Linked DNA regions of Homo sapiens: regions 1, 2, 3, 4, 6 and 7 are each reported to be linked to region 5. Evidence: microRNA targets listed by miRTarBase, many of them from high-throughput screens and not tested one by one. Region 5 holds a microRNA gene; each other region holds the end of a gene's coding sequence. Distances are between the middles of the regions.
What was found. Region 5 holds the annotated microRNA hsa-miR-548bb-3p (CAAAAACCAUAGUUACUUUUGC, at 1,931-1,952, shown strand). A microRNA usually pairs through its seed, bases 2 to 8, with sites in the 3' UTR of a target mRNA and lowers its output. Matches are read on the target gene's strand: a 7mer-m8 pairs with bases 2 to 8, a 7mer-A1 pairs with bases 2 to 7 and ends in A, and an 8mer does both.

Region 1: the mRNA of ATP9A is a reported target of hsa-miR-548bb-3p. Seed matches in the 3' UTR shown: 7mer-A1 at 1,501-1,507 and 7mer-A1 at 2,966-2,972.
Region 2: the mRNA of ARID4A is a reported target of hsa-miR-548bb-3p. Seed matches in the 3' UTR shown: 7mer-A1 at 2,613-2,619, 7mer-A1 at 2,180-2,186, 7mer-A1 at 1,983-1,989 and 7mer-m8 at 1,952-1,958.
Region 3: the mRNA of ATRNL1 is a reported target of hsa-miR-548bb-3p. Seed matches in the 3' UTR shown: 7mer-A1 at 3,333-3,339, 7mer-m8 at 1,719-1,725, 7mer-m8 at 1,107-1,113 and 7mer-m8 at 250-256.
Region 4: miRTarBase lists RSRC1 as a target of hsa-miR-548bb-3p. Seed matches in the 3' UTR shown: 8mer at 1,291-1,298, 8mer at 2,116-2,123 and 7mer-A1 at 2,341-2,347.
Region 6: the mRNA of POLR2D is a reported target of hsa-miR-548bb-3p. Seed matches in the 3' UTR shown: 7mer-m8 at 2,079-2,085, 7mer-m8 at 3,485-3,491 and 7mer-A1 at 3,797-3,803.
Region 7: the mRNA of CDC37L1 is a reported target of hsa-miR-548bb-3p. Seed matches in the 3' UTR shown: 7mer-m8 at 3,102-3,108 and 7mer-m8 at 3,040-3,046.

The regions. Positions count from the first base shown.
Region 1 is chr20:51,597,803-51,602,309 of GRCh38, reverse strand. ATP9A (ATPase phospholipid transporting 9A (putative)) reads left to right here. Exons shown (of 28, transcript NM_006045.3): 28 at 963-4,507. The coding sequence ends at 1,099. Among named protein-coding and RNA genes, the nearest start is that of NFATC2, 57 kb to the right of the region's middle.
Region 2 is chr14:58,370,851-58,375,357 of GRCh38, reverse strand. ARID4A (AT-rich interaction domain 4A) reads right to left here. Exons shown (of 24, transcript NM_002892.4): 24 at 1,482-3,472. The coding sequence ends at 3,369. The region is part of intron 1 of TOMM20L-DT (TOMM20L divergent transcript); the gene reads left to right. Among named protein-coding and RNA genes, the nearest start is that of TOMM20L-DT, 23 kb to the left of the region's middle.
Region 3 is chr10:115,943,818-115,948,324 of GRCh38, reverse strand. ATRNL1 (attractin like 1) reads right to left here. Exons shown (of 29, transcript NM_207303.4): 29 at 1-3,667. The coding sequence ends at 3,546. Among named protein-coding and RNA genes, the nearest start is that of SNORD158, 250 kb to the left of the region's middle.
Region 4 is chr3:158,543,037-158,547,543 of GRCh38, forward strand. It overlaps RSRC1 (arginine and serine rich coiled-coil 1), which reads left to right. Exons shown (of 10, transcript NM_001271838.2): 9 at 299-451; 10 at 1,147-2,694. The coding sequence ends at 1,239. It overlaps MLF1-DT (MLF1 divergent transcript), which reads right to left. Exons shown (of 5, transcript NR_104147.1): 5 at 2,184-2,541. Among named protein-coding and RNA genes, the nearest start is that of UC.134, 19 kb to the left of the region's middle.
Region 5 is chr3:60,615,260-60,619,766 of GRCh38, reverse strand. MIR548BB (microRNA 548bb) reads left to right here and starts at 1,897; the gene lies at 1,897-1,962. All of the region lies in intron 4 of FHIT (fragile histidine triad diadenosine triphosphatase), which reads left to right. It also overlaps the pseudogene MTERF1P1.
Region 6 is chr2:127,845,504-127,849,891 of GRCh38, reverse strand. POLR2D (RNA polymerase II subunit D) reads left to right here. Exons shown (of 4, transcript NM_004805.4): 4 at 1,707-4,388. The coding sequence ends at 1,785. It also overlaps the pseudogene RPS26P19. Among named protein-coding and RNA genes, the nearest start is that of POLR2D, 10 kb to the left of the region's middle.
Region 7 is chr9:4,704,816-4,709,322 of GRCh38, reverse strand. It overlaps CDC37L1 (cell division cycle 37 like 1, HSP90 cochaperone), which reads right to left. Exons shown (of 7, transcript NM_017913.4): 7 at 924-3,312. The coding sequence ends at 3,211. Among named protein-coding and RNA genes, the nearest start is that of CDC37L1, 28 kb to the right of the region's middle.

The sequences.
Region 1 (4,507 bases), not on the chromosome of region 5:
ATCCTGTGCTCAGAAAGTGGAGAAGGGGCTTATTCTGGCTTCTGCTATATTGAAAGCCACAAACTGTCACTCCTCTCTTAAGAAAACCTCATAACCGGGTTTATAATCCTGCAGCAGGAAAGGCAGTACGCCCGCCCCCCCCACCTTCCATCAGAGTCCCTGAGGGTCAGCTTAAGCCTTTCTCTGACAAGGGGGTCTGAACACTTTGCACCATGACCCAGACTCATCCTGTGGCTTTCTGCGACCATCACTGGAAGCAGAGGGTGCATTTGAATGTCATTTTCTGCTCGCCAGTGGCCGGGACTTAGAAAGACTCTCCAACTGTTAGACAACACCAAATCAAAAGCATCTCTGAGTTTTCTTCCCCTGTAATTTTCTTTCCTTCTTTTTTTCTCTTTTTTTTGAGACAGTGTCTTATTCTGTTGCCCAGGGTGGAGTGCGGTGGTGCAATGTTGGCTCACTGCAGTCTCAAGCTCCCCGGGCTCAGATGATCCTCCCACCTCAGCCTCCTGAACAGCTGGGACTATAGGCATGTACCACCATGCCTGGCTAGTTTTTGTATTTTTTGTAGAGACAGGGTTTTGCTGTGTTGCCCAAGCTGGTCTCAAACTCCTGGGTTCAATTCTTCTGCCCGCCTTGGCCTCCCAGAGTGCTGGGATTAAGGCATGAGCCACTGCATCTGGTGGCCCCCATAGTTTTCTTCTCCTGGGTGTTAAAAGTAGCATTTCACTGTCAGGAAGCTACAGAAGAGAGAGCGAGGAAAATCAAGCTGCGGCGCTGTGTGCTCTTAGCCATGGTACCTTCCCTTACAGTCCATGGAGAAAGAGGGCCAATGCCAGGAGGCTGTGGGTTTGTGACGGGAGATGACTTTCCCTTTGATAGTTGTGACGCCTGTTTCTGGACCCCATGCACCTTCCGGAATATTCCTGCCTGCTCACTGCCGTCTTCCCCTTTCCTTGCAGATGTGTACTTCATCGCCACCTTGTCATTCTTGTGGAAAGTCTCCGTCATCACTCTGGTCAGCTGCCTCCCCCTCTATGTCCTCAAGTACCTGCGAAGACGGTTCTCTCCCCCCAGCTACTCAAAGCTCACATCATAGGCCGTGCGTTCGCTGGAGGGGGCCCTGGTCTTGGCGCTTCCCTGATGGACAGAGCTCAAGTTCCATTTATATTAACCGCCACCTGTGGATTTTGCAGTAATTGCTAACACATGCAGTTTTAATGGGAAGTGGCTCTGCGCCTAAACGGAGTCCTAACGCTGCATCAACGGGAGGGAGGGTCCTGAAAGAGACCCATCTGGGCCTGTCTGAACCCCTCGTTCTTCATGTTTAGGTGAATATGAATATGTTAAAGCTGGTGGCTCAGCTGGGAGATTTATATGGGTCACTGTGCGAGCTTCCTTATGACTTGAATTTTGTTGTCACATGATAAAAGTTTCTGTGTAGCTGAAGGTTGTAGAAGGCTTGTGTGTGTGTGTGTGTGTGTGTGTGTGTGTGTGTGTGTTTTTAAAGAGTCCTAATGTGTATGTACTCTTTATGTCTTTCTTGCTCTTACAAAGAGGTGTCAGAAAAATAGAAAGCTCTTGGTGTCGGTTTGGGAGGAAAAGACAGTGACATTTGGTAAAAAGTTATCCACACAATAATCTCCATTCGGAAATGCTCAGTATCGTCTCCAGCCAGCCCTGCTTATCCAGGTTACACTGGATTCCTGGGATCGTAACCAGTAAATGAGAGGAGAGGGAGAGAGAGTGTCCTAAGTCCAATCTGTTATCCTTGATCTGATTCAGCATCCATAGTGTGTGAGTTAACTTCACCTGCCACCTCGTAAAAGAATTTCAGAGGTGTGATCCCGCTTTATTGGGACCTGGTAACAATCACAAAGCCAGTGGCTGTTTGAGAAGGACCTCAGACATTTTCAGCAGAGTTGTTTTAGCAGGAAACGTGCCACTGAATGGCCCCTAAATGTGTCGACAGTGTGATAAGAGACTCAACTAATTCTTTAGGCAACATGGCAGATGTGACTCAGATCCTCCAAGACCAAAGCGGAAAGGTCAGGGGGCTGGGACTCTTCTCTTCCATAGAAGCCTGTTTCCTGTTAGGAGGCATAATGGAAGATGACCCCACAAAGGCAGAGGCATCTTTCGGAACAACACTGGTGGCAGCTTTCAGAACAAGGAACCCCTGGTGGGAGGACGCCCAAGCTACAGCGTTGGGATCTGGGATCTGTTCCACTGCCGGCAGATTTCAAGGGGAACTTGCTGAAAGGCAGCCAGTGGTGAAGATTTCTCCCCTCCCAGGATGGACTACATGCCGGCATGTTTCTTATAAAGCTGTGGCTGCTTGTTTCAGAGGAAGGGAGTTTGCAGTCGCGGGACGTGGTAGAGCAAGGCATTCTTGGGTTTTCAAGTTGCTTCTTGCAGAAGCCACATATGCATGCCATAAGGGTTAAGTTGGTGGATCTTTAAGAGCCAAGTGTGGTTGAGATCTTGGATTTGCGTTTACTTCTTGATGAATACATATCCTTCAAACCCTCTGCCTGGCGCTACTTCTGTGTGCTTCAGAGATGTACATCACAGCCTGGTTTCTGATGCCTACTAACTCCTGCTCTTGGAGAGCTGGAGACACGAGGATCAGATAGTCCCTTGCCTTTGGAGCACTCTTGATAAGCTTTTGTATTTTGTGTTGTCCTTTTAAAATGTTCTAGAATGACTTTACGTTGCAGGTACTGGTTAATTGGCTGTTGACACCACATCTATTTTGTCTTATGATTCTGCAGTTTTGCAGTACTTTTCTCTATCTGATTCAGCCATTTCTGCCAGAGGGAAAAGGTCGGCAGAAAAGATGTATTGAGTGAATAGTTAAGGATAGGATCTTTGTCCAAAAATTTCAGAAAGATTGAGCAAATCTGACGTATTCATTGAGTGAGTTTCTGTGTTTTCAAAGGTGGAGGAGAAATTTGTGCTGGAAGTTTTTAAGCCTCCGTTTTCTTGGAAATCAGTCTGTAACACTGGCAAGTCTTAAGATAGTCCCATTTAGACTTTGCAGATGCTGAACCTGGCTCTGTAACGCTGGGAAGTCTTAAGATAGTCCTGTTTAGACTTTGCAAACCCTGTACCTGGCTTTGCTCGGAGATTCGGGATGCTGGCTCCTGCAGGCAGGGCGTGTGGGAGCCTCGTCAGAAAGTTTTAGAGGTTTCCAGCAGAAGCAGAATGAAGATGGTCTCCCTGGCCTTTTCCTTAATTCTCAATTTTGATTGAGGTGCACAAGTTGACTTTTAAAGCCAACGCTTAAGATACTGATTGACATCTTCAAGGGAGAATGCTCCCAGGAGGGGCTGAAGAAGCCATAGTTGGAAGTGGAAGGTACTCGTCAGTGTTCTCCACAAACCTTTTTACTCTGTTGTCTCAGCCGCACTGGGGCGGAGGCGGTCAAGGGTGAGAAGTACCGACACTCAAGTGCAAACTGCCACGTCGTTGGCCCATCCCATCAGTGGGCAGCTGGCTGACGCCATTCACTGGACGGTCCCTGAACACCTAGGAATGCACACACCGTGCTTCTCAGACACTGGAGACGCAAAGGCAGGAGGATGCAGTCCGGTGAGAGGACACGATCTTTACCTGCACAATCAGACTGTAAGCCCAGCAGAGAACCCCAGGGGCGCCTGGGTACTTCTCGGAGGTCATCTTAGTTGTGGTGGGGAAGACAAAGAAATAAGCAAACAAGAAACTAGAGTTACTATACAAGAAACTCTCCTGAGTTTGTAAACCTTAAGCATAAGGATTCAGTTGACCTTTTTCTTGGTTCATCAATCTGGAAAGAACTTACATAAAGCGCCATTGACACTGTCACCTGGGAGCTCCATGGGCCGTAAGTCTTTGACAGCCAATTTAATTTGAGGTCAGAGGGCCTTGAGGTACACAGTCAGCACTGTTTGAACACTTTTCCTGAAAGCAAAACTCACAGCTCCCTGCGCCCTCTGACAACACTAGCTATTTCTGCCAGAGTAAGAACTTCTATTACTATTTTATTATTGTTCATATGTCTTTTGATGATGGTTGTGTGACAGGGGGAAGCAGGATCTATTTGGTTTCTTCCCCTCCCCCCACCCCTTCCTTTTTGTCTCTCTTTTTTTTTCTCTAAGAAAATCACCAGACTAGTTTTTCCATCTTGAGTAATTTCTTATGTGGGACAGTTTTGATCCTCATTTTGAAAGCATGCGTGTGCACATGTGTGTTGCCTGTGGTGCCAGGTGAGACAGGTGGCACTAACTCCAGCTGCTTGGAAGGCATCCCAAGGGCGCATCTTAAAGTTGGAGCAGACCTCCCTTTTCCAGCCCCTGGGGCCATTAGACCACGTGCTGGAACTAGCATTGTAAAATTCCCATCCCAGTTCCACTCCCCTGAAGTGAAACCCTTTTTTTTTTGTGACAGTAAATCTTAAAAATCATTGTCTCTTTATGAACATTTCCTCAGTTTCTTCTCTGCTGAAAATGTAAGCCATGCTACTTTT
Region 2 (4,507 bases), not on the chromosome of region 5:
AAAAATACAAAAAATTAGCCGGGCGTGGTGGTGGGTGCCTGTAGTCCCAGCTACTCAGGAGGCTGAAGCAGGAAAATGGCATGAACCCGGGAGGCGGAGCTTGCAATGAGTGGAGATCGCGCCACTACATTCCAGCCTGGGCAACAGAGCAAGACTCCGTCAAAAAAAAAAAAAAAAAAAAAAAAAAAAAAAAAAAAAAAAAAATTACAGGGCTTATAAGAAAGGTATGTAAGCAAATTAACTGGGCAATCCACATAGATTTTCATAACTTAAAGCAATTTCATAGAAGGCATAGTATGTAGTAGTCTTTTAATATGCTAAGTGCAACCATCTTTCTTAGTGAAAGAGAGGAAAACTAGAAATTTAACACAAAATAACAAACAATAAAAGCACACAATGTCCAGCTGGGCACAATGACTCACACCTATAATCCTTGCACTTTGGGAGGCCGAGGCAGAAGGATCGCTTGAGCCCAGGAGTTCAAGACCAGCCTGGGCAACACAGCAAGACCCTGTCTCTACAAAAAATTTAAAAATTAGCCAGGTGTGGTGGCACATGCCTGTAGTCCCAGCTACTCAAGAGGCTGAGGTGGGAGGATGGCTTGAGCCCACGAGGTCAAGGCTGAAGTGAGCTGTGTTCACACCACTACACTCCAGCCTAGGTGACAGAGCAAGACCCTGTTTCAAAAATTGAAATACATAAAAGCACACAATGCAATACTAAAACAGAAAGCACCATAATCTTTTAAATAACTTGATTTTACAGATGGCAACTTGCATTATATTAGAGTGTCTTTATATTTTTACTTTTTTTTTTTTTTTTTTTTTTTTTAGACAGAGTCTTGCTCTGTCATCAGGTTGAAGTGCAGTGGTGTGATCTGGGCTCACTGCAACCTCTGTCTCCCGGGTTCAAGTGATTCTCCTGCCTCAGCCTCCTGAGTAGCTGGGACTATAAGCACGTGCCACCACGCCCAGCTAATTTTTGTATTTTTAGCAGAGATGGGGTTTCACCATATTGGTCAGGATGGTCTCAATCTCTTAACCTTGTGATCCGCCTGCCTCTGCCTCCCAAGATGCTGGGATTACAGGTATGAGCCACCGCACCCAGCCTATATTTTTACTTTCTTAGTTACATTTAAGAGGTATCTATTCAAAGTTTACCTAAACTCAAAATATGCTCAATATTTGAAATGTCATACTTAGTCAATATTCACTTAATTTCATAATCCTTTCCAGCCTCCAAATGAAAGGATTTTAACAGTGTGTATCTATTCAATGAATACACAGTTTTGCTCTTTGTAGCAACATCCCAATACTTCATGACCAAATTTGTATCAATTAGAAGGGACAGTACTCAAGCTGATAACTTATTTATCTCACATTTATTGAATTGCTACAGAAGGAAATCATTAAAATATTTAATGTATAAATCTAAGGTTGCCTCCTAGGTCCAAATGGATTTAAATGACACTTTTTTTTTCATTTTTATAATTAGTAGAAATATTTTATTGTAAAGGCTGAATATACTAAAATGCTTGGTTTTGTGAAATCTGATTTTCCAACTGTAAGTTACAAGCACTTAGGAAAAAAGCAATCACTTAAATGAAAACTAAAAGTATAAAGCCTATGTTTAAAACATGGCCTTTATTAATACTGCCCACTGAGCTCCATTTTTATTTTACATTGAGATACTTCTGCTTTGCAAAGAAAAGACAGAAAAGTGCATTTTACAAGAGTACTTTTTTTGTTTTTAATTCTCTGAGAAAATGGAATCTGAATCACAAGTTCACAATGTAGTAAAATGAAATTAAGAAACAATGATTTCAGTAATGCTATGCCATCACTAGTGTTTAGCTCTGACTTTTTCTTGTAAATCAGATCCTGATATACAGTCTAGAGCATCTAGGTTATTATTCTACAGCATATTAAACACAGAAAAGGAGGTTTAAAAAAAAAACCCCTTTCAATGTACAAACATGAATTTAAAAACTGCTTTTATAAAATCACCTTTTTACATAATGTATATGCAAAACTGCTTTAAATACATGATTTTGGAAGAATTATTTACAAAATCTATCAGTCTGTGGAACAATTCACAGACAAAGCATACATAGTTGCTTTACTTAGTTGTTGCATCTCAACTTTGGGAGATATAAATTCATTCGGCAGTATAGCAAACATAAAAACTGTGACAAAGTATCTTAAGGGCAACCAAAAATTTGATCCTCAAAACAGTTTAAATACTAGGACTGCCAAAGTTTCTAAACAAGGACATACTTTAATGATCCAGATGCCCATTTATAGTTCTATACTGTTTGATGGACTGAGACAGACTCCCTTTAACACAGGCAAGGCTGCAGGATGCAACCTCCTGTAAAAAGGACAGCTGAGAGCTATTGTCATCCAAAGAGTGAATTAACCTAGAATTTTCTTTTTTTAAATTTTATTAATATTTTAAAAAATACATAAAAATACAACATCCAATGTCTGAATAAATATATTTAACAAGTTGCAAGATAATACCTTATTTTACACAAAAATTTCAGCTTTAGAAATCTTGTTAAATAACTTCATTGTTGTTATATATTTCATTTTTGTCTTTTTGTAACAAAATAAAAACTCTGAAATTACATAGAAAAAAGACAAAATATTTTTGTCAAGGGATAAGATAGTCCACTGAAAACTTATTCACAATTCCACTGTAAACATTAATAAACATTAAAATATTTGCATAATTTTGTGCTCAAAAATCCTATAAAAAGTGGAAGACTTATTACAACTGTAGTTTTCAGTCAACTACACTTCCTTTCACAATTTATTTTGTCCCATTTACACCTTCAATCCTGGGCACACTGCTGAACATATACTTTGGCAGTTCTAAATAGCAAGTGCTTCCACAAAAATAAAAAAAACGATAATGAAAAAAAACACAACATAAACCCCCTACTCACCAAGTGTTCAAATACATCTTAGTGAAAGTGCAGCAGTAACTATTCAGCTGGGTAATATTTTGATGTTTATCATGTGCACTTGCTTGTCTACGATTTCTGTAACACCTGAAAGCTTTATTATACAAATTCAAATTTGCTAAGTGCCCTTTGTTCTATATCACAACAAACGAAAAACAAAAGTAAAGAGGAAAAATTATGACAAATATGGCAGGCTGCTTAACCTTCACTTATTAATCAGCTTATTTTTTGCAACAAGAAAAAAGAAGAGAGAGGGGAATAGATACAATCCAGCCTGGAAAAGTATACAGGATATACTTAGCAATGTCAAACCAGTTGAGTGCTTTCTGTGGTTGTAATTCAGGGTTTGGGGATTTATGTCCATGGCAGCAAACTGCTGGGAAGGTAGAGAAAATGTTTATCACCTGCATTCTACAGCAAGTACATTTTGTGGGGGAGATGATGATGAGGGACTCATTCCAGTGTCTGATGAAGCAGATGACATGGAGGCTCCCGCATGAGACACTGTGGAATCAAAACAACTATGTTAGATCCAAAAACTGTTACACAAAGATACCCAGCTAACAGCAAATTAGAAATAAAATTCTTAACATTATTCACCTTAATCACAGGCCTCTTATATGTCACATGAAGGAGTAACAAATTGTCAGCAAAAATTTTGTTTGGCTCAATTAAGTGGAGTTAGTCTTTGGTCAGTTAAGCACTACTCAACACTTAAAAATACATCATAAAATGTAAAGATTAAAGAGACAAAAACTCTTAAACCTCTAGTTGGGAGATCCCATGAAGGAACTTGGCTCAATCAGAAACAAGGTCAACCTGAGATAAACATGGAACCATATGGAATTTCTGCTTTATCTATGGGTCATAGGACCGTAAGAGAATTAATTTAACTCAGAGGATTTCCTCTGACAGGTATCAGAATCATGGAGATCAGGATCAAAGTAATGATGTGTGATAAGCAAAAAGTCCTCAAATGGTTTTAACATAATTTTCTCCAGGAGGACATAACACAGATTAGGGATCGGTACTCTGAGCATTAGGTGTTTTGCCACTTTTTAAGTTCTTTGCTTTTATCTTCTCTTTCCTTGCAATACTCTTGTCTTCTGCCTTTCTTTGCCTGATTGTTCCTATTTTATTTAAAATTTTAATTTTTGTTTATTCAAGTATCATGACAACCTCTGGGGCTCAAGCGACCCTCCTGCCTCAGCCTTCCAAGTAGCTAAGACATGCCACTGTACCCAGCTAATTTTTAAATTTTTTGTAGAGATGGGATTTCACTACGTTGCCCAGGCTGGTCTCAAACACCTGGACTCAAGTGATCTTCCTGCTCCAGCCTCCCAAAGTGCTGGAATTATAAGCGTGAGCCCCATGCCCAGGCAACAAATTCTTACATGTATGCTACAAATCACTCAAATCTCAATTTAATAACTCATTATAAAAACATAAGCAAATAAAAATGGGGAAAAGACTATAATAAGCTGGGCATGTTGGCTCATGCCTATAATCTCAGCACTTTGGGAGGCCAAAGCAAAAGGA
Region 3 (4,507 bases), not on the chromosome of region 5:
TGAGAAAAGATGTATCATGTATAACCACAAAATGTAAGCACTGACCCTGTCTTGCCTAGTTTGTACGTGAAAGGTGATCATTGATGCTCTTGTCTCAATGTCATCAGTCAGTAATTTTAAGAAAAACTCTCCTAAAACTATAGATTTAAGAAGAGTTTAAGTCTTTATTGACTAAATGTCAAAGTCGTTTTGTAGAAATCCCTATATCTTAGAAATACAGGAACTTAAGTTATTCAGGGAGTCTTTTTGAAAAACCTGATTGACCTTTACCTACGACCAAAAGATGGATGAAAATTAATAGGTGGATTCATAAAACAACTGGTAGAAAAAGAGTGGCCTGGTGTCCCCACGGTTGTTAATACCAGCTACGCTGCATCAAGGTCCCACTGTGGGAGCTTTCTGTGTGTTACCATCTAGCCTCGCAATGCCTCGAAAGGTGGGCACCATTACCGCCCTTTACAGATGGAAGGCTGAGGCTTCAAAGGTGAAACTTACCCAGCACCACACACCTGAAAGCTGGGTCCAGTGCCCGTTTTCCAGCCTGTGTGCCAGTGTGCACCCTAAATGACCTTATACCATGAACTGTAGCCATACAGTCACCTCTATCTTACTGCAGCTAAAAGAAGATGAGATGTTGGGAAGTACAGCAAGGATCAATTACCTTTTTAAATACGAACTATTTGAAGTTTTCCTACTGAACATAACACTATAGTATACGGCATCTCTGTGTATCACTAAAACAAATTTTCATTTAAAGAATTATGAGAATCCTAATCCTCTTAAAATTTATTAGCTGAATCTGTAAGTATGTGCAAATTCTTTTCCAATAGGAATTTTCTAGTTCAAATAGAATCCCCAGGTTAATTTTTAAAACTCCATTGTATTTAACCATTTTTTTTTCATACTTGGCAGAATAAAACATCCTAAAAATCTAAGGAATTTTTCAAAGTCATTCTAAACTGAAATGTTTAGAATTCCATTAAGGTTAGTTTTCAAGAGGATCAGCCATTTAACTGCGAAATTCTGGGAAAGTATCTGCATATTTGTGTGGTTTGATTTAAAAAAAATGAAAGCATCCAAATTTAAAGTGTCTGGAATGTAGGGGGAAAAACCAACAGATTCAAAGTGATTATCCTTGATCCTTGATGTCTTTTCAATCCACTTCACCTGAGGGCAAAGAATTTACTGCCAGTGAAAAGCTTTGATACGTTGAGAATTAATTGCATAATTAGCCACAGAGTTAGCAATATGTGGCCCAGAAAGGTATAGCATGACTTTAACTAAACATCACATTGTGTCTCATAATTCTCTACAATTTGAATTTTCAAGTTTTAAGAACCCAGTGGGATTTGAGGTGAATAAAACTTGATAATTCTTCCACAGTAATACTATCTGCTTAGCCTCCCTAAAAATATAGCTTATATAGATTTTACATCTAAATCTGTATGTTTTTGTATTTTTATTGTTATGCTTTCTCTTGTGACAATTGTTAGAGAAATACATTGGGCAATCACTTTTTAAAAAATGATTATATCTTTGTAATCATTAGTTTCATCAATTTATTTTTTCATGAGAGAAGTCAATATTTAGAGGGTCCAAAAGAAGCTAATAAAATTACTTGATTGTTTTTAGGAGATATTTACAAACTTAGCTCATTCCTTTAATGAGAGAGAAAATATCACAGGGAAGTAGAAACAACCAGTGGCCTCCCCCTCCAAAAAAACCCCACAGATTATAGATAAAATTACTAAAATTACTCTAAGAATTTGTCTTATTTTTAATGCATGGAAAATAGCAAAATTATCATGCCAACATGAGGAATATATACTATAATTCATAAATGCCTAATTATCAAAATAATGACATAGTCATGGTTAGATGCAACCTAGAAATCTTATATAAGATGCAACTACATATTGTATGATCATTCCTCTTATATATGACATTCAATCCTCATCAAATTCAGCTATGTATAAATGGCATTATGAAATAAACACTTAATATCACAATAGGGTCATAGTCTGCTACTGTACAACCATGGCATGCAAGTAACTATGCATTAGCTGTAAACAGTAAAGTGTCATAACCTTCCAGAAATCCAAAGAATGTGAAAAGTACATATATAGTACTAAACATCAATTGTATTTAAAGGACCTTCATATTTAACAAAGCTATATCATATACAGCAGCTTTGGAGATTTCTGTCACTGTTATACATATCTTGTCACCCTGAAGTGAGGAAACTGCAATTCCAAACTATATCTGTTAATGCTACTGAGCTTTAGTGAACTGTGGTCAGTATTAGGATGTAAATGATTCTGTGTTCTAATGTGAAGTATGTTTTATTTTTCCTTTCTGCCATAATTCAGAATTTTGAGTCACTAAGAGTGTGCTGACTGTGGGCAACCATGGACATATTTTCTAAACCACAGACTTTTTCTCAGGACATGGATGCGCTCGTGTTGGGAAGAAGACTCCTGTTGATGCTTGCCAGCCAGTGCTCTTCTCTACTTGTATTCTAGGTGGAACAGTTGGCAGGAAGGAACTCAGGTCATCTTGAGAGATGTCGCCTCTAAAATACATTTTGTAACATTTGTAAAAGGTAGTTAAAATCTAGCAGCTAGGAGAGGAAGGGCAAAGAAAGATCCATTCTTATAAAAATGCAGATGGATCATTTAGGTCTGATCCAATGATTCTTAGGCAATTAAAAATTATCATACTGGAGCAGAAGCTTGTATGCTGTAAAATAACCATTTCGGCTCTTTTCAGGTTGTGGTATTGGAGGCTGTTTTTGGAAGGAGGGGAACAACTGATCGCTGGACAGACTTTTCCATGCTCTATCAGCTCTGATAACGAGTTAGGTAGTTGGCATGGATGACAGGAATGTCCTCTACACTGAGCATTCTAATAAACCCCCTGTGAAGTTGCACAGAATGAGTTGAACTCATTCTGGTCTGCATTCTAGTTAGGCGGAAAGCTGTCACATTCTCAGACTGAGTTTGGACACGATATGGTCATATGAAATATTTAAATACATTACCTACATCCTACTACATCAAAATCTTGCCTTACCTTTACAACGAGATAAAAGAGCATTTAAAGCCATTGCAATGTGTTCATTCCCTGTTCATACACAGGTGATTCAAGTTTGCTTATGAGGCAAAAACTGTACAATTCTCATCATTCAGGCATTAAAAAATGTCTTTCTTTCAAGTCTTGGGATATAAACAGTTGATTTATATGAATTACATATTTTTCATCTTCATTAAGAAACAATATACATCTTTTTCCAGAGTAATTTAATGTTAGCTATAATAAGCCTAAGATAGTGGTAAAAACTGACTTTATCACCTGTGACCATCAATACTTTTATAAAACTCATGAACATTCTTTGGCCACCTGGGTCATTGTCCATTTGGAAGGAAACTGTACTCAGGCTCTGGATGATACAGAGATCTGCCTCCATAAAATCCAAGGCCATAGAACAGCTTTAACAGAAGCCCGAAGTAAAACAGTACAGAATATACAGGAGCGGTTTCCATTTCTCAGACACAAGTTCCTTGACGTGTTGAAAGGTGTTTTCGATTCCGGACTCCAGAAGTCTTATCTTTACTATCTGAAGCTTTCTGTTGTGAAATATCTATTAGGGCACTGGCAATTGCAAGGCCTGGAAGGAAAGAGAAAAGCATTTAAATGCTTGCTTAGACATTTCTGGGATGGCAACAGTGGTGGTGAAGGGCCCTGCTTTTTATTGCTTTTCATTTAGTCATCACACGTTTGGCTGTTAATGGAAGTTTTCAAGTAGTTTGCCCTTTACCTAAAATGTTTCTTGACTTGGGCATGTGAACTTCACCAAGGAAGAAGAAGAAAGATCTAAGAAAGTTAACTGACTCTGACTTGGAACAATCAAATCAGTGTTTGACAAATGATCACATTTAGTTGTGCATATGACCCTAAACCTTCCTCTCCATGTCTGAACACGAGTTTGCTGTGGAGGTACTAGAAATTTTAAATGTTACTATTTTTTTTTTTTTTTTTTAGGAACAAAACTAGTCATGTTAAGATTTTTAAAAACATTTCAAGCAGTTTTAGATTTACAGAAAAATTGAACCAATATTGAGATAAAATTACCAACTGAAGTCCATAATTTACATTAGGGTTTACTTTTTCTGTTGCATAGTTCCATTGGTTTTGACAAATGCATAATGCAGGGTATCCACCATTACAGTATCATACAAAATAGTTTCACTGCCCTAAAATACCCCCGCACTTCACCAATCTATCCCCCTTTCCCCAAGTCTCTGGCAACCACTGATCTTTCTTTAATGTCTCTGTAGTTCAGCCTTTTCCAGAATGTTGTATGGTTGGAATCACACAGTACGTAGCCTTTCAGACGGTCTCCTTTCACTTAGAAATATGTATTTAACGTACCTCCATCTCTTTTTTTCTTTTTGGCTTGATAACTCGTTTCCTTTTATTGCTGAATTATATTCCATTGTGCGGATGT
Region 4 (4,507 bases), 98 Mb from region 5:
TTTCTCAGCATTTTTCTATTTGTTATTCCTAAAACAAATACAATATAGTTATTCCTATATTCTATTTCTATATATCTATAACTATATTCCTAAATATAGTTATTCCTAAACAAACAAATATAAAAATAAAATAACTGTATTTCTAAAACAAACAAATACAAAAAGTAGGGCCTTTTTGGAGATGGGTATCATCTCAAAGGAGACTAATTGAACAGTTGTTATTCAAAATCAGAAATATTTTTGAAGTAAAACTCTAATTGTGTATTGTGTTGAAATTAATATGTGTTGTTTCTTTCAGTCAGTGGAACCTAGTGAAGTGAAACAAGCAACTTCAACATCAGGACCAGCATCAGCAGTTGCTGATCCACCCAGTACTGAAAAAGAAATAGATCCTACCAGCATCCCTACTGCTATCAAGTACCAAGATGACAATTCCCTGGCCCATCCAAATGTAATATCCTTAAACTTTACGAATGTCAGTTGAAGTCTAATTTACTGAAATTATTTCAATCTGTTATCCTTTTGTGCTAACACCAAGGAGACCATTGGAGGAAACAGGTTCATATTCCCTTGCTAAAAATAGGCATCTGGCCCCCAGGCCTTTAGAACTGTTATCTATATTTGAATACAGTAGGGTCCAACTCATGTTGCCTAACCTGTAGAAGTATTCTGTCTATGGTTAAGAAAAATAGACAAAGAGAAGCATTTTTTCCTTTTTTTTTTTTTTAGCTGAATTGATCAGCACCATGAGAAGTGTTTGTTTAAAAATCTAGCACTAAAAGTTCCATTTCTGAGCTCTACTTTGTTCATTATCAGTGAGCACATCACTAACATCATACTTTGCTGTCTTCCATGAAATGTTGTAATTCTGCTGTTTTGGAAAAGTTATAGGAAATAAACTTCACAAATATAAGGTACAAAATTGTTAAGCAATGATGTTGATACTAGTAGTTCTTTTACTCCAAGAATTTCTGAGCATTACTAATTCCAAATAGATAGTCATCAATTAAGAGGTCATCAAGAGTTAAACAGTATCCAAATCTTGTGTTGAGAGATATATTCTACAAAGGTGAGTTCTGTCATTTTAGGTCAAATTCAAGTTATTGGGAGACAGTAACATTTTTTCTTTTTCTTTTCTTATTTCAGTTATTTATCGAGAAAGCTGATGCTGAGGAAAAATGGTTCAAGAGATTAATTGCTCTCCGACAAGAAAGACTAATGGGCAGTCCTGTGGCCTAAGTAATATACATATAGTTGGATTGGATTGTCAGCAGTAACATTGGAAATTTAGGTTTTTAAATCCCAATATTAACTTTTTACTCTTAAAAAGAATTTTGCTGATTATATATAAAGGTAGTCTCATTTCATTTGTCTCTCATGTAGGCTTGAATATTTGTTAATTTGAATTAAATCAAACATTGTAAAAATTAAAACAAAATTTAAGATTGCATGAAAATGTTATACTGTTAATAAAGCTAAACATAAATAAGTCTGTTAAAATGAATGGTAGACACTAGTGTTTCTTAGTGCAATTCAAAAAATGTCAAGATGTCATTTAAAGACACAATTTTGATTAATTATGCATACATGAGAATTGAATTACATGCTATAAATATGAGATTTCATCTTCCGTATGGTATTCAACCATTTTTAAATATTTTATTTCACCATATTGCAAATTTTTAGGCACAATAAAAAGCACCCTAAACAATGTAAGCAGAATGTGCATGTTAAAGAACATATTTATGGAAAAAAAATTTTTGAAACTTAAATAAATTGGTGATTTTGCTTAGAGATCAGCTTCTACTAGATGCTCCTTTACAACATGTTAGCAGATCTCAGCTCATTGTTTTAGAAATCACATGTTCATGCTAGACCTAACCAGTTGGCCAAATACCTATGATGGAGAAATCATTTCTGAGAAAACTGATAAGAGCTCTCACTTCAGTCTTACTTACCCCACTGCTATTCCCTGTGGAGAAAGCCGGCTAATTGTTTTGATAAGGCTATCTGCCATTGTAGAATACCTTTCTCTAGTAGCTGAATGACAATCAACTATACGTTCCATACTAAACATGCCAGAGATAGGACTTTTAGGCCTTGCTTTACAAAACTGGTTTTTAACAGCTGACATGAATATTTCCCGTTTCTATTTTCTTTTTTTTTTTTTTTTTTTTTTTTTTGAGACGGAGTCTCGCTCTATCCCCCATGCTGGAGTGCAGTGGCGCGATCTCAGCTCACTGCAAGCTCCGCCTCCCAGGTTCACGCCATTTTCTTGCCTCAGCCTCCCGAGTAGCTGGGACTACAGGCACCCGCTAACATGCCCAGCTAATTTTTTGTGTTTTTAGTAGAGATGGGGTTTCACCATTTTAGCCAGGATGGTCTATTTTCTTCTGTTGTCCAGTCACTAATTTAGTCTCTGCGAAGACTGTAGCTCAGAACAAAAGATAAGCAAAAAAAGTCTTCAGGGTAGGACTGCCAACATATAGGACATTTTAATGCCATCTTCTTTATATTTCTGGGACATTAAAATTCAAATCTCTGTTGAAAATGAAAAATGTAAAACTTAGTTGCAAACAGTATAGAAAATAAGTGATGATGAAATATTTGTTTTCATACAAACATGCTTTCCCATTCTAAATAGATGCTAGTTTTCTTTTTTCCTTGGCTGTAAATAAAAGTGCCCCAAATGAACCGAGATTTGTGTGGTTTTTAACATAGATGTATACAATTTTAGTGACTTAAAAAGGGGTTACAGTTTATGAAATATTTTTATTTCATACTTTGTATAACTTATAAACTATAGAAGTACTATCACCCTATTGGAAAGTATATGTTAGTGGTCTGGGCAAGAATATGGGTTATCATTTGGGCCACTAATGATTCTCCAGAGGACCTGGGCTAGGCAGTTTTCTCAATATCCCTGATCTTCCTTATCTATAAAACAGTGAAAATCTGGTCTACTTCAATTATATTTAATACCAGTGTTCCTCTGTGGCAAGTACCCCAAATACAGAAGCTTGAACTGTGACAGAATTGTTTTTTGGGGTTTTTTTTGGGGGGGAGGGCGGTGGTTTGAGACAGAGTCTTACTCTGTCATCCAGGCTGGAGTGCATTGGTGCGATCTCGGCTCACTGCAAGCTCCGCCTCCCAGGTTCATGCCATTCTCCTGCCTCAGCCTCCTGAGTAGCTGGGACTACAGGCGCCTGCCACCATGCCCAGCTAATTTTTTGTGTGTGTATTTTTAGTAGAGACGGGGTTTCACCGTGTTAGCCCGGATGGTCTCGATCTCTTGACCTCATGATCCACCCACCTCGGCCTCCCAAAGTGCTGGGATTACAGGCATGAGCCACCATGCCTGGCCGAAAATCAAATTTTTTTAATGAACTAAACTATGGTCCCTACAGGAATTCGGTAACTACTTCCTTCCTCCCTAGTTTTCAACATGATTCATTTTTATATATTATTAACTTCGTTTACCTGCATTCCTATCAAAGACCACAATATTACCACACAAGCCAAATCAAATTTAATAAAAAGGACTGCATAGAACATGATCAAACATATTGCCTAATTCAAGCTAGCCTTCTTTAATATCCTTATATGGTGAGTCTATAAAACAGAATAATTCCTTTCATGTCACTTGATTAATGATAATAATTTGGACATACATGAGACCTTAAGTGTTTTACGAAACATTGATTTCTTACAAAATGATGGGTACTGATAATACAGGTTGAGTTTTCATTTCTGACAAGTAAGTATATTCTCAAGGAAAATGAAATAAGAGCATTTTTCCTGGCACTCTCTAGTTATGAGGAGTCAAAGAGCTAAAGATATGAGCACAGAATACTTTGAATCATTCACCTCCTTTGCTTCAGCATCCTAACATGTGAAATGAGGATACTAATTGCAGACCTGCCTACTTTGATTTTTCAGTAAAATGACATAAAAGAAAGCCCTTCATAGAAACTTCTGCTATTTATGCCAAGGGAACATTTGACATGATAGACATCTTAGTGAAATGTGGAACAAATAGTTGCTACACTCCAACTTGAATGTGTTTATGTGTGTGCTTGAGCTGCCATGGTCAATAGTTGCCGTTCCAGCGATTTCCTCAGCCTTCCCTGCTCTTCTTCCCTGCCAAGGTCGTAAGAAACCTTACTTACTCTGCAATTAGTGACCTACCATCTACTTATTTGAGAAATCTCAGTTCTTCTTTACAGTCAGATTTACCCATTTATTCATGAATATCATTTTGAGTACCTAGTTCATGCTGGGCACAGTAAGATGTGCTTGGGGGATGCATACCTGAATCCAGTAGAGATCCTGCCCTCAAGAGGCTTAGTTGTGAAGCCCAGACATGTAAATGATGTCAGAGATATAGTACTTAGTGGCAGAGGAGAGGACTTGGTTGCAAAGAAGAGAGAAATTACTGTAAGTTAGAAAATTAAGGAAGTCTTCATGGAAGAAATCAATCAAACTGAGTCTTGAAGGACAAGAAAGC
Region 5 (4,507 bases):
GTCACTTTCATGCTCAAGATCAGCTGAACTTTCTTGTACATTATTTTCTAGGAGTTCTATGGTTTTACATTTTACATTTAGGTCTGTGATTCATTTTGAGTCAATTTTTGTGAATAGTGTGAGGTCTTTGTCTAGATTCTTTTTTTTTTTTTTTTTTTTTTTTTTTGCATGTGGGTATCCATTTGTTCTAGATCCATTTGTGGAAAAGACTATGTGGGCTTTCTCTTCTGTTTCACTGATGTATTTGGTGGCTTTTGCCAATACCACACTGTTTCAATTACTATAGCTTTGTTCTAACTCTTGAAGTCGGATAGTGTCAGTGCTCCTACTTTGTTCTTCTCATTTAATATTGTCTTGCATATTCTGAATCTTTTGCTTTTCCATGTACACTTTAGAATCAGTTTGTTAATATCCACAAAAAATAGGTTGCTGGGATTTTCATTTTCTTTGTATTTATTAGGCAAAAATATTCCTTTATTTACATTTTATTCACATTTAGTTTTTTATGCGCACATTTAAAGGACTTTATTGTAAACAACGACAGTGATTCTAGAACAGTAGATAGCTTTTTTAAATGTAATTACTCTTGTAAGAGGAAAAAATACATGATACTAAAGGATTGTATTTTGTGACCACCTATAATGCAACAAATCATCTACTTAGTTGCTATGTTAATCTTTGCTGCTGTAACAAATTATCAGACTCAGTGGCTTCAAACAACACAAATTTATCATCCTGTGGTTCTGTAGGACAGAAGTATGATACTGGGCCCACTGGGCTGAAAAGGTACCAGCCGTACTGCATTCCTTTTTGGGGCCTTTAGGGGAGATTCTGTTTCATTGGCTTTTCAGTTTTCTTTGTGGCCCCCTGCATTCTTTGGCTTATGGTCCCTTCCTTCTTCAAAGCCTCCTTTTCACCTCCTTCAAAGTGGTCAAGTCTGTCTTATACAGCATCATTCTGACCTCTTTTGCCTCCTTCTTCCACTTTTAAGGACCCTTAGCATTATATTAGGTCCACTCAGATGATTCAAGGTCATCTCAAGGCCCTTAACTTAATCAAATTTCAACTTAATCACATTTGCAAAATCTTTTTGCATAACATATTCGCAGCTTCTTCAAATTAAAACGTTGACATCTTTAGGTGTGGCCATGATTCTGCCTGCCACAGTAGAACTTGTTTTCAAAGTAATCAGGTTTTGCCCTCAGCAAATTAACGCAGGAACGGAAAACCAAGCACCACATGTTCTCACTTACAACAGGGAGCTGAATAATGAGCACACGTCAACACATGGAGGGAACAACACACACTGGGGCCTGTTGGAGGGGTGCTGCTGGGAGGGAGAGCATAAGGAAGAGTAACTAATGGATGCTGGGCTTAATACCTAGGTGATGGGATGATCTGTGTAGCAAATCACCATGGCACTACCATCTCTACAGCAGCACAGCCTGTATCAAATAATGGTATGTTGGAGTAATTCAAACTGGAAAATAGGTAGCTAGGAGGACTGCACCTGAGCATATCAACCATGAGTTTCCATAAACCTGTAAAACAAAATAGCCAAAGAATTATTACATATATATATCTGTGGTTAAGAAATCATACCCCTCCTTTTTGAAAGGCCCAAATTCAAAATGAAAAGATACCACTACATTATATGACTGGCTTTCAAAAATTCCCCAGTGTTCTGCTTAACTTTTTAAATTTACTTTGTATCTTTTTTTTTTAACTCCAGAGTAGAAGAGTGATGCTTGATGTCCTCAAGTTACAGCCAGCATTTACTAATTCTTTGATTTGACTTTATAAAGTACTTATGCTTGAATCCAGAACCCAAGGATTTTTCAGTTATCACAAATTACTTTCACAGAAGGCTAATTTATTATTCTATGAGACAATCCATTAGATTGGTGCAAAAGTAACTATGGTTTTTGCCCAAAAACCATAGTTACTTTTGCACCAAGCTAAAATATTCTTCTCACTAAACTTTTTCTCTGCCAAAAGATCACATCTGGATAACTTTTTTTCCCCACATCTGGATAACTTAAGGCAAGCTTTTGTACCTCTTCTTCAGTACCTCAGAGAGAAAACAGCTTCTGTTTGATATTTGTGTAGTTTGTTTTGGCATAGTCATTGGAAAGGTCTAGGATTTTGGTTCCTGGACCACATATTAAAATAGCAATTCCCTACTGTTCAAATTGAAACTTGCCTGTAAAAATTCAATGTTAGTTTTTACCTGCTTGGTACCCTGAATTAAGATGAAAGGGTTTTAAAAAATCATCTTTCTTACAAAATCTGTGGGATCATTGTGACCCAATGAAAAATATACTTCCTGCAAAACTTTAACCATCTGTTTATTCAGATCGAGACTATTGGAAAAGGTACAAGGGACATTGGTCAACAATCAACAAAGGCATTTACAGGTAAATCCAGCTGAGTAGAGGAACTCATAGAATCCCTAAGTTTAGGTTTTCATGGGACAAAAGAAAGCATTCAGGAGAATGGCCCAAAATATTTACAGTATCAAGATCTGATATCATAATCCTTCATAGATCCCATTGTTTTGAAAGACGTTCAAGAGTGTGTGTTATAGCTTTTAGTTATTTTGATATGATGCTAACAATCACTTCTTTGCTAGCTCCTTTGGAACGAAGAAACATCTTCAGGTCCTGCTCATTGGGAACATTCTGTTAAAAACTCCAGGCTGTCGTTTCTTTGCCATGTCAGTATCCACTTCCATAGTAAGTTATTCAGTGGTTCCTCATTCTCCAAAGCTCATTGTCTGCATCGTTTCACTTCACACCAAAAAGCCTAAGTGAAACTGATTTGAAGAGCATTTCTGCTGAAAATCAGGTCATCCAACATTTTGAATTAAAGTGAAAGTTCTCATATACCAGAGATTTCTTGGTGCCATAATAGTCAGGTAGCCCAAACCTTTCGGAATGCTGTGTGCCGTAGATGGCTTTTACTTTGGCTTGGGATTTTTAAAACTGAGGTTGCATTGAATGTATAGGTCAAGTTGAGAAGAACTGATATCTTGACAATATTGAGATTTCCTGTCTGCGTATGTGGATAGCTTTCCTTTTTCTTAGATCTTTTGTATTTCTTTCAGCAAAGTTTTATAGTTTTCCTTATATAGATCTTTCACGTTTGATTTATACCTAAGTATTTAAATTTTTGGCATTAATGTAAATGGTATTGTGTTTTTAATTTCAAGTCCCAATTGTTCATTGCTAGCAATAAGAAGACAATTGACTTTGTATATTAACTTTTGTCCCACAAGCTTGCTATGATTGCTTATTAGTTCTAGAAGTGTATTACTTGTATAATTAAAAAAATTTTAAAAAAGAATCAAAGAGTATGGAGGAGAAACTTTCAGCACACCTGTGCACATCATAATCATTAAAATGTGATGAAATATGTTGACACCAGGTGTTGCTTTTGTGAATTTCCTGTAGTGGCTTAGAATCACTTTTGCTTATATTTTCAAATGTGAAGATTTGTATAATAAATTAAACTGAACAAACAAGAAAACATCTGGGGTGAGTTTTTGTAACAGGTGTTGTGTAAATAGGTCTTGTGGATATCCAAACAGGTGACACTACCTAAAATATACACACATGTTGGACTCAACATGCACAGAAACAAAGCATGTGGAATAGAAGAACCTAGACAATGGTAGTCCCAAGAATTGTGACCTAATGACAAGTGATATTACTGACAAGGGTGTTAATAACTCATAGACAGATCAGAGTTTCGATAAGGAAAGCAGGGACATCTCTCAATGTACAGCAATGAGGAAGACTTCATTTGTGCACATTTGTCTGACTTCCAAAGAACAGTTTCTTTATCTCTTTTTCTTCCACATCTCACTCTATTCTTATTGGTAAACTTCACTCGAACCATCCAGGGAAGAGTATTCTGGGAAATGTAGTTCTTGCCATCAGCTTTGCAATGCAGAGAGCTTAGATGGAGCCTTATCTTATGGAATCATATTTTATTTGAATAAGACTTCTACAAAATGTCTTTTTCTCCTACTGGATTACAAGTTTCTTAAAGGTTAAGATTGTTTCTTTTATGTCTGAATATATCTTGCAGCATCTGGCAGAGGGTTGTACACATAGTAGGTATTACTCAAATATTTGCTTAATAAATTAATGGATGATATTACTTAAAGTACTGTTATGATCAATGTAAGTTACCGCATAGGTGAATTGGACCATCACTTTGCTCTGACGAATGGCTGTAACTAAAATGAATAGCCAATTTAAATTTCTGATTTATTAAGGCCTTTTTACTGCTGTTCTTTTACTGTAATACTCTGGTGGTTTGCACTGGTCATTAACTTCAGTCTAGAGTATTGAGATGTTAGTGAAGAGTTGGTACATTCAGCCCACGGAATCACGTTTCCTACATGATCATAGCTGGTATGTCTGAGAGCAGTTGAATAGCTCCTCTAATGATTGTAGAACACTAGAGTGAATGACAAATTATTGGTGTCTGATATTATATG
Region 6 (4,388 bases), not on the chromosome of region 5:
TTGTTTTTAGTAGACATGGGGTTTCACCGTGTTGGCCAGGCTGGTCTCAAACTTCTGGCCTCAAGTGATCTGCCTGCCTCAGCCTCACAAGTGCTGGGATTACAGGCATGAGCCGCGGTGCCCAGCCTCATGCTCCACTGCTAATGATAGCAGAAATTTGATAATCTCTTGGCCAGTAAGAAAATGGATAAATGAATCATTGTATAATCATACAATGTTTATTATACAGCAGTAAAAAAAAAATCAATGAACTAGAACCACATGGAATATCAACATATGCCAGAATGAATTTTGAGGAAAAAAATTGCAGAAGGATAAATACAGTATGATGCCATTTCTTATAAAGTTTGAAACTATGCTGCATATTATTTACGTATCCATAAATGTGTAGTGAGTATAAAAATATGTATGGCAAAACAAATTTTTTTTAAATGTATGGCAATGATAAATACTAAATTGAGGATGGTGGTTATTTCTGGGGAAGGAGGGAAGGTACTGGTCTAGGAGAGTATACACAGCCATCCACTTTTCCTGCTTATTAAAGAACTCTGGGCTGGGCGCAGTGGTTTAAGCCTGTAATCCCAGCACTTTGGGAGGCCGAGGCAGGTGGATCACAAGGTCAGGAGGTTGAGACCATCCTGGCCAACATGGTGGAACTCCATCTCTACTAAAATACAAAATTAGCTGGGTGTGGTGGTGTGCGACTGTAGTCCCGGCTACTCGGGAGGCTGAAGTAGGGGAATCACTGGAACCCGAGAGGTGATGGTTGCAGTGAGCCGAGATTGCGCCACTGCACTCCAGTTTGGCAATAGAGCGACACTCTGTCCCAAAAAAAAACTCTGGCCAGGTGTGGTGGCTCACACCTGTCATCCCAGCACTTTGGGAGGTTGATACCATTAGAAAACATGAAGACAGTAAATGAAAAAATGCAGGGCCGGGCGTGGTGGCTCATGCCTGTAATCCCAGCACTTTGGGAGGTTGAGACAGGAGGATCACCTGAGGTCAGGAGTTCGAGACCAGCCTCGCCAGTGGTGAAACCCCGTCTCTACTAAAAATATAAAAATTAGCTGGGTGAGGGCTGGGTGTGGTGGCTTACGCCTGTAATCCCAGCACTTTGGGAGGCTGAGGCGGGCGGATCACGAGGTCAGGAGATCGAGACCGTCCTGGATAACACAGTGAAACCCTGTCTCTACTAAAAATACAAAAAATTAGCTGGGCGTGGTGGCGGGCACCTGCAGTCCCAGCTACTTGGGAGGCTGAGGCAGGAGAATGGTGGGAATCCGGAAGGCGGAGCTTGCAGTGAGCCGAGATTGCGCCACTGCACTCCAGCCTGGGCGACAGAGCAAGACTCCGTTTGGTAGGCTGAGACAGGAGAATCACTTGAACCCTGGAGGTGGAGGTTTTGGTGAGCCGAGATCATGCCACTTCACTCTAGCCTAAGAGGCAAGAGCGAAACTCCATCTCAAAAAAAAGAAAAAAAAAAACCTCTAAGTCAAGTGGGGCTAACTGTAAAGGTATATTTTTTATACCTTTTATCTTTTATATGTTTGAAATATTTTGTAATGTTTTATCAGGAAAAGTGGAAAAGAAATCCAGATGAAAGGTAAAGGTGTTAGAGATGTGGGCAGTAGATTAGCACGCCTCAAAGAAGAGTGCGGGGAAATTGCCAGTCGCCAAATCACTCATTTCTTTTCATTTTCTTGTAGCTTGGAGGGACGGTTTGAAGATGAGGAGCTGCAGCAGATTCTTGATGATATCCAGACAAAGCGCAGCTTTCAGTATTAATCTCCAAACATCACTGCTGCTCGGAGAAACCACATCCCCAGGCATAACACCACCTTCCCACTGTCTGGGGCTGACTTGCACAGAAATTCTGTTGAAGACAGTTGAGAATTCCTTTGGAGAAAACAGCCCAGCTTGGCGTGGGGTTAGGTTGCTGTTTCAAATAACTCACAGGCCCAGGTGACATGGAATCTTGGAGCAGCCTTGTGCAGTGGCAGCCAGTGGCTTCCTGAACGTGCCTCTGCGAAGTGTGAGATGAGGGGTCACATAACCACACTGTTGACTACCTCATTCCTGGTTTTTGGCCTCCACATCATCTTTTTTCTTAATATTTCATGTTTTAATTTCAGGGTGTTTATACTTTTTGAAACTAGACCAGAAGATAGTAGACTTTATAGAGAAAGACCAGTTTTACCTAGATACTAAAGGAAGAATTAAACCGCTGTTAGTTTGAAATGCTTTTTTTTTTTTTTTTTAAATGGAGATAGGGTCTTAACTCTTGTCCAGGCTGGAGGAGTGCAGTCGTACAGTCATGGCTCACTGAAGTCTTGACCCCGCTGCCTCAGCCTCCCAAATAACTGGGGCCACAGGTGTGCACCACAACTCTCAGCTAATTTTTAAAATTTTTTATAGAGGTGGGGTTTTACTATGCTGTCCAGACTGGTCTTAAACTCCTGGGCTCAAGTGATCCCCCTGCCTTGGCCTCCCAAACTGGTGAGATTACAGGCATGAGCCACCACAACTGGCCTGAAATTCTTAAAGGATGGGAGTGTCGATGACAGCACCTTGGCATCGTTGTGCCTAACCTGGGAGACGGAAGAAGCACGCCATGGGAAGTGTTTACACTTGGGGACAAGTGCTAAGTATTGTGGAGCCCATAGCCCCTTGAGATAGATGGCTACTTTGCCTTTCTTCTTGAACTGTCTTGCAGAATGTGGATTTGGGGTAAGTGGTCTTGAAGGATTCATTTAGTCACCCTCAAATTAAGATTTTTACTTCATCTTTCTTGGGCCTGCACCTCCAAGATAACAAAGAAGAAGCAATGGTCGTGCCAAAGAGGTCCACAACCAGGTGTGCACTGTTCACTGCAGCCCATTTGCTGTATGAACTGTGGTTGTTGTGTGCCCAATGACAAGGCTACTAAGAAATTCATCATTTGAAACGTAGAGGCCGCAGCAGTCAGCGATGTTTCTGAAATGAGCATCCTTGACGCCTGTGTACTTCCCAGGCTGGATGTGAAGCTACATTACCATGTGAGTTGTGCCATTCACAGCACAGTGGTGAGGAATTGAGCTCATGAAGCAGGCAAGGACCGAACACCTCCACCCCAACGTAGACCTGCAGGTGCTGCCCCATGACCTCCACCAAAGCCCATATAAGGAGCGGAGTTGTTAAGGACTGAAGAAAAACTTCTCTGGAGAAAAATAAAATTGCAATTCTACTTAAAAAAATTTTTTTTTTTTTTTACTTCATAGGCCAGGCTTGAAGTTCTGAACACTTTGAAGTCTCCAATTATGAGAGATCCAGTCTAAGCCTCTGGCCTGCTAATTAGCAATAAGTGCTTTATTTGGAAGGAGGGAGTCATCCACTCTTGAGCCACTGCAGTGAAGTCACTTGATCTCAGTCTGGGGGAAAACACTTCAATAGCTAAACATTCTAGCTTTGATTTTTCTGAAGGGAATACACTTGTTTTCAATTTTGGGGTTTTTCTTTGGGGCACTTGCTTGACTCTGTATGAACTTGTGATCCAAGGAAAAAGGAGAAAGAACAGTGTTGGCTTTTAAAATCAGGATGGTTTTATGTTTGCTACGAAATAAGGCAAGAATAAAAAATTCTTATTTTTATTTATTTATTTATTTTTTGAGATAGAGTCTGGCTGTGTTGCCCAGGATGCAATGGCGCAATCTTGGCTCACTGCAACCTCTGCCTTCTGGGTTCAAGTGATTCTCCTGCCTCAGCCTCCCAAGTAGCTGGGATTACAGGTACCTGCCACCACGCCTGGCTAATTTTTTGTGTTTTTAGTAGAGACAGGGTTTCACCACGTTCGCCAGGCTAGTCTTGAACTGACCTCAAGTGATCCTCCCACCTCGGCTTCCCAAAGTGCTGGGATTACAGGCGTGAGCCACCGGCCAATCTTTTTATCCTTGAGCAACTTCGCTTCTTTGAGCCTCATTGGTGTTCTCAATTGTGAAATATGGATAATAGTATCTGCCCCATGGGTATTTTGAGAAGGTTGAATGAACAGGAAATTATTACAAAGAGCCTAGAGGTGTCTGATATATAGTATGTTCCAGTAAATGTTCACTATTCTTAGCATCTCAGGCAGATGAGCTAGTATAGATAGATGATTAAGTCAGCTTGCTTCATAGAAATTAGTGCAAGAATTTGTTAGCCTACCAACTGATAGTATCAGACTTGGAAAATAAATGAAATTGGGCCAGGCGTGGTGGCTCACCCTTGTAATCCCAGCGCTTTCAGAGGCCGAGGCAGGCGGATCACCTGAGGTTGGGAGTTTGAGACCATCCTGACCAACATGGAGAAACCCCGTCTCTACTTAAAATACAAAATTAGCGGGGCGTGGTGGCGCATGCCTGTAATCTCAGCTA
Region 7 (4,507 bases), not on the chromosome of region 5:
CCCGACCCCCTTGGCTCACATAGTGAGCAAATAATTTTCAGATAAATCAACTTCTCAGAACTATGCAATTGTATATACATGTCCATTACAGATGAGAGATGGATGGATTTAAGGGTTTTGTTAAAAGTATGTTTGCTATAATGGCAAAATTGAAATGGAAAGCCCATGAAATGGAAAGCCCAACCTCAACCCAGACAAGTACCTCGGTTCTGTCCCACACCAATTTAAGAACTGAAATACATGATTGACTTAGAAAAGTAAACTGACATTTCGTTCTCCTCTGAAAATACCCAAAGGTTAACTTCAGGATCACCTTGCCTAAACCTACAGTCAACTTTTTTCATCCTGTTAGAAAATCCACTTACTAAAACAGATTCATGTTCTTTGGGCAGCATGTTCATTTTCATTTTTAGATGTTGCCAGGCTGGAGTGCAGTGGCGCCATCTTGGCTCACTGCAACCTCTGCCTCCCGGGGTTCAAGCGATTCTCCTGCCTCAGCCTCCTGAGTAACTGGGACTACAGCCACGCGCCACCATGCCCAGCTAATTTTTGTATTTTGGGTAGAGACAGGGTTTCACCATGTTGGCCAGGATGGTCTCGATCTCCTGACCTCAGGATCCACCCGCCTCGGCCTCCCAAAGTGCCGGGATTACAGGCGTAAGCTACTGCGCCCGGCTGTTCATTCATTTTTAAAAGGGTAATAATATGATATGCCAGTCTGAAAGAAGAGGAGGACCTGATTTTCCTAAAGAGAAGTTATAAGAGATTGTGAGCTCATTAGGCAAAATTTGAAAGAGCTCACTAATGGTATAATTGGAAGAGAATGTTACCCATCTACCTAAGAGTAATAATTTTAAGGCAGTATTATCTTCACTACCACTGAAAAAATGACACTGAGTTAACAGAGAATAAATGGACAGCTATTTGATTTAAAAATTTTTTTATTCAAATATTAATTTTATCAAATGAAACAAGAATCTTTGATGATACTTTGATGTAAAAAAATGTTTCATTCATGTGTTTGCACTTTCCATGGTTTAATTTGTTTAGGGTAAATTGTCCAACCTGAAATATAAATTATCCCTTTGCTTAATATACTCTTTATTTCTTCAGAAACAAAAAAAAGGTAGGAATTAGTTCAAGGATGTCAATTTACTGTTTCTAGTACTAAAGTACGGCTAACTATGTAATTTATAGCCTTTAAGTGCAAATTATGGCATCAGTCAGTGGTTCCCACAACAGACCCAATCACACTTTCATACTCAAAACACAGTATATTCTTTTGCAAGTAAAAATATATAAATCAAGTTTCAAAGAACATCTTTTCAGTGCCCCTCAAGAATAGTTTACTCAGTTTGTTGATACTTTCTCTCCTGCCAGTCTTCAGTCATTAAATACCTCTAACTTAGAGAAGGCAAAATGAAATTCAAAACAATTTGAATGCTTACAGGCAAATCCTGGGAAAGAAGGGAAAATAATAATTCAAGTAACATTTCTGTGAAACTAGGAATATGGCTCCTGTGTCTGCCCATTCTCTCAATTTGGTAGAAAGGGAAAAATAAGAGCTTGCTTCAGAACAGAACAAAAAGAAAAAAATGTCTACGACTAGGTCATGGGTTTAAAAAAAAAAAAAGTACAGGCTGACAAACACTACTATATAAATTAGTCAAACATTTTATTATAGAGTATATATTTATATCAAAAGCACAAAAACGTTTATTCTGAAAACCAGGAAGATTGTGATGTTACAGAAGAAGATTCAATAATTCCAGTCCATTTCTAGGGTACTAAGTGTCTGATCACCTCAGCGAAAACAAGATACAAATGAGGCCAAGGTCACAGGTCTGGCCACCCTGAGTCCCTTCGCACTATTTGGTTTCTCAAGTTGAGACACGTATTCCCAGTCCCAGTTAGCCACCTTCCAAGTGTTTGCTACTAGCCTTAATGGGTACTTAGCCAAAGACTACACCCAAATATAACCAAAGCTTATGTTAAGTCATAAGATTAATCCTTCAATAATAAGGATAGCATAATTGGCTTTGTTACCTAATTCTACATAAACAAAATCATCAAATATCCTGGCATAACTGAAATGACTTACAGAGGAAGTAGTAAAGCTTGGAAGTATTCTATGGTAACTGAGCTGAAAAAGGGGAAATGCCAAATGTTGTAAATGCCATCATTACCAATAAGAGTCACCAAATTCTCAGAAATAGGTAATTGGCAGCTCAAGGCAGTTAGCACTACAAGATTTCTCTTGCCTTTAAAAAAAAAATCATTTTTAAGACTCCTTTTTTAAAAGGCTACATCAAAAAATAAACCAAAATAACAAAAATTAAAAGGCAACATGAGTAAAATAACTACAAATTTAAAAATCAGATTATTATTCCTGTTTGTTCTTACAAGCCATTAGTATTCTTTTAAAACTTACTCCCTGAGAGATCCCAGACTATGTTAAGAAAGAGTGAGCTTGAAGTTATTCTTATTTAAAAAGAAAATCTATATTAGCTCATCACATTTGATATTATTATAACTCTTAAAGTCAGCAGGGTAAAATCAAATTCTAAGGAATATAGTTTTGAGAATAATTTGAGGGTAAATGTAATGTATATATCAAATTTGTATTATAGTCAAGGATTTAACTGATGGTGCCGAAAGTCAAGTATTTAAGAGTTAAGACTTTTAAAAATTGTACCCCCCAACTTATTTAGTAAAGTACATTACCAACTACTGATTTATTGCTTTTAATGTGATGAAACACCAAATTTGACAGCTAAAGTAGCAGTGGGATACAAGTATGTTTTTATCTTTAATCATTTTTGTAGAATAGGACATGTACATATCCATATAAAAAGAGACTGTAGCAGATGCCTCCCAGAATCAACCAGTTCTTGTAAACATTGCATTTGTGCAGATTTTCATACTTGATTCCAAAATTGAGAACAATAAGATTAAAAGCAAATTTAGTAGCCACAAAAAGTCCAGTTTGACTTCCTGCAACATATGGTACCACTCTTCTCTTCAGAACAAAACAAAACAAAAAACCTAGCAGCACATTAAAAAAAATTTACAAAACATTTCAGTACTCTTTCCCTCCCATCAAAAACCGAACAAAAATAAAGTGCAGCACCCATAAAAGTGTCAAGAAAATAGCCAAGTTCTTCCTTTCTTGTAACAAAATAGCACTTGGCCTCAGCAGTCTTAACCAAATTATACAGTGTCCATCATTTTGGGTTCATCATCTTCTTTATGTACCACCGAGTTTAAGCTGCAGAGAGCTGTACTGATAGAATACTGAAGATAATCTGGATTCTGGGGAAAAAGAAAAGGTAGATTGGGGGGAGAAAAAGAACGCATTATAACCAGTTTTATGACAGTACATACATATATATTCAGTTTCACCGTCCTATTTCTCTGCAGTGTAGTAGAGCAGTAGGAAAGAAGATGGACTTTGGAGACAGACTTGGGCTGAATCCCAAGAAAATAAAGAAAAAAATAGGATGCTATCACCTATGAGATGTGATAAAAGAATGATACATGTAAAAAACAGAAATGTTAACAAATACCACCTTTCTTCTCTGTTTAATCATACAAGGCAAGGCTACAACCTCCATGTGATTATATATACATAGCTACTGATAATTTAAATATGGTTTGAAGTTAGCAATGCATTTTTAAGATTACCATCTAATTACAACAGTAAATACTAAAACTGCAAATCATCTAAATAAAGAAAAAATTTACTGGGTAAAAATTATGGATATCTTCAGGGTCTATTGTGGTTTCCCAAAGGTTAAAACAAACTCAGTGAGAAATCTGTACACTTTTGAGATGTATTTACACCCTTATTTTTTAAACTGAGAATAAAACAACAGGATTTGTTAAACAAGCATAAACTCATAAATGTTATGCTTGTCAATTTCAAAAACTGGGAATAGAAAACATAAAATCTTACTCAATAAATGCAAAAATAAAACCATTATTAAAGCACCATGAATAAGGGTATAGCCCTTAAGACCCAGAACTTTAGAAAATTCTTCCCCAATTCAATTTTGTCTACTCAATTGTTCCGAATATCTGCTAGTTACTTAAGACTTTTACCACTTGTATTACTAGTTTTACTTATATTTATTTTATTTAATAAACACCAGTGAGGACAGTAGTCAAACAGGATAGATGTCTTAAACCTCACCATCCAATAGGAGGTTGGGAGGCAGGGTTTTCTAAAGATCCTCCTAAGAAAGTACAACACTTTGTGAGATTCCTTTATTCTAAAAGTCAAAAAGCTAGCTGGAGTTCGGATTATTCCCAATCAGGTCTTTATGAAGGAAGTAGCAGGGACAACTGACTGAGGTCTGGGACACTCACACTGGGCTTCAGTTTTAATCCTGCCTCTATTTAGTAAAGCAAGCCTCAAGGAGAACAAAATTCACAATTTAGTAAAATTAAAAACTAGTCTACAGGATAAACCTAAAGTTAACTGTTATTATTTCTATATCCAAGAGGC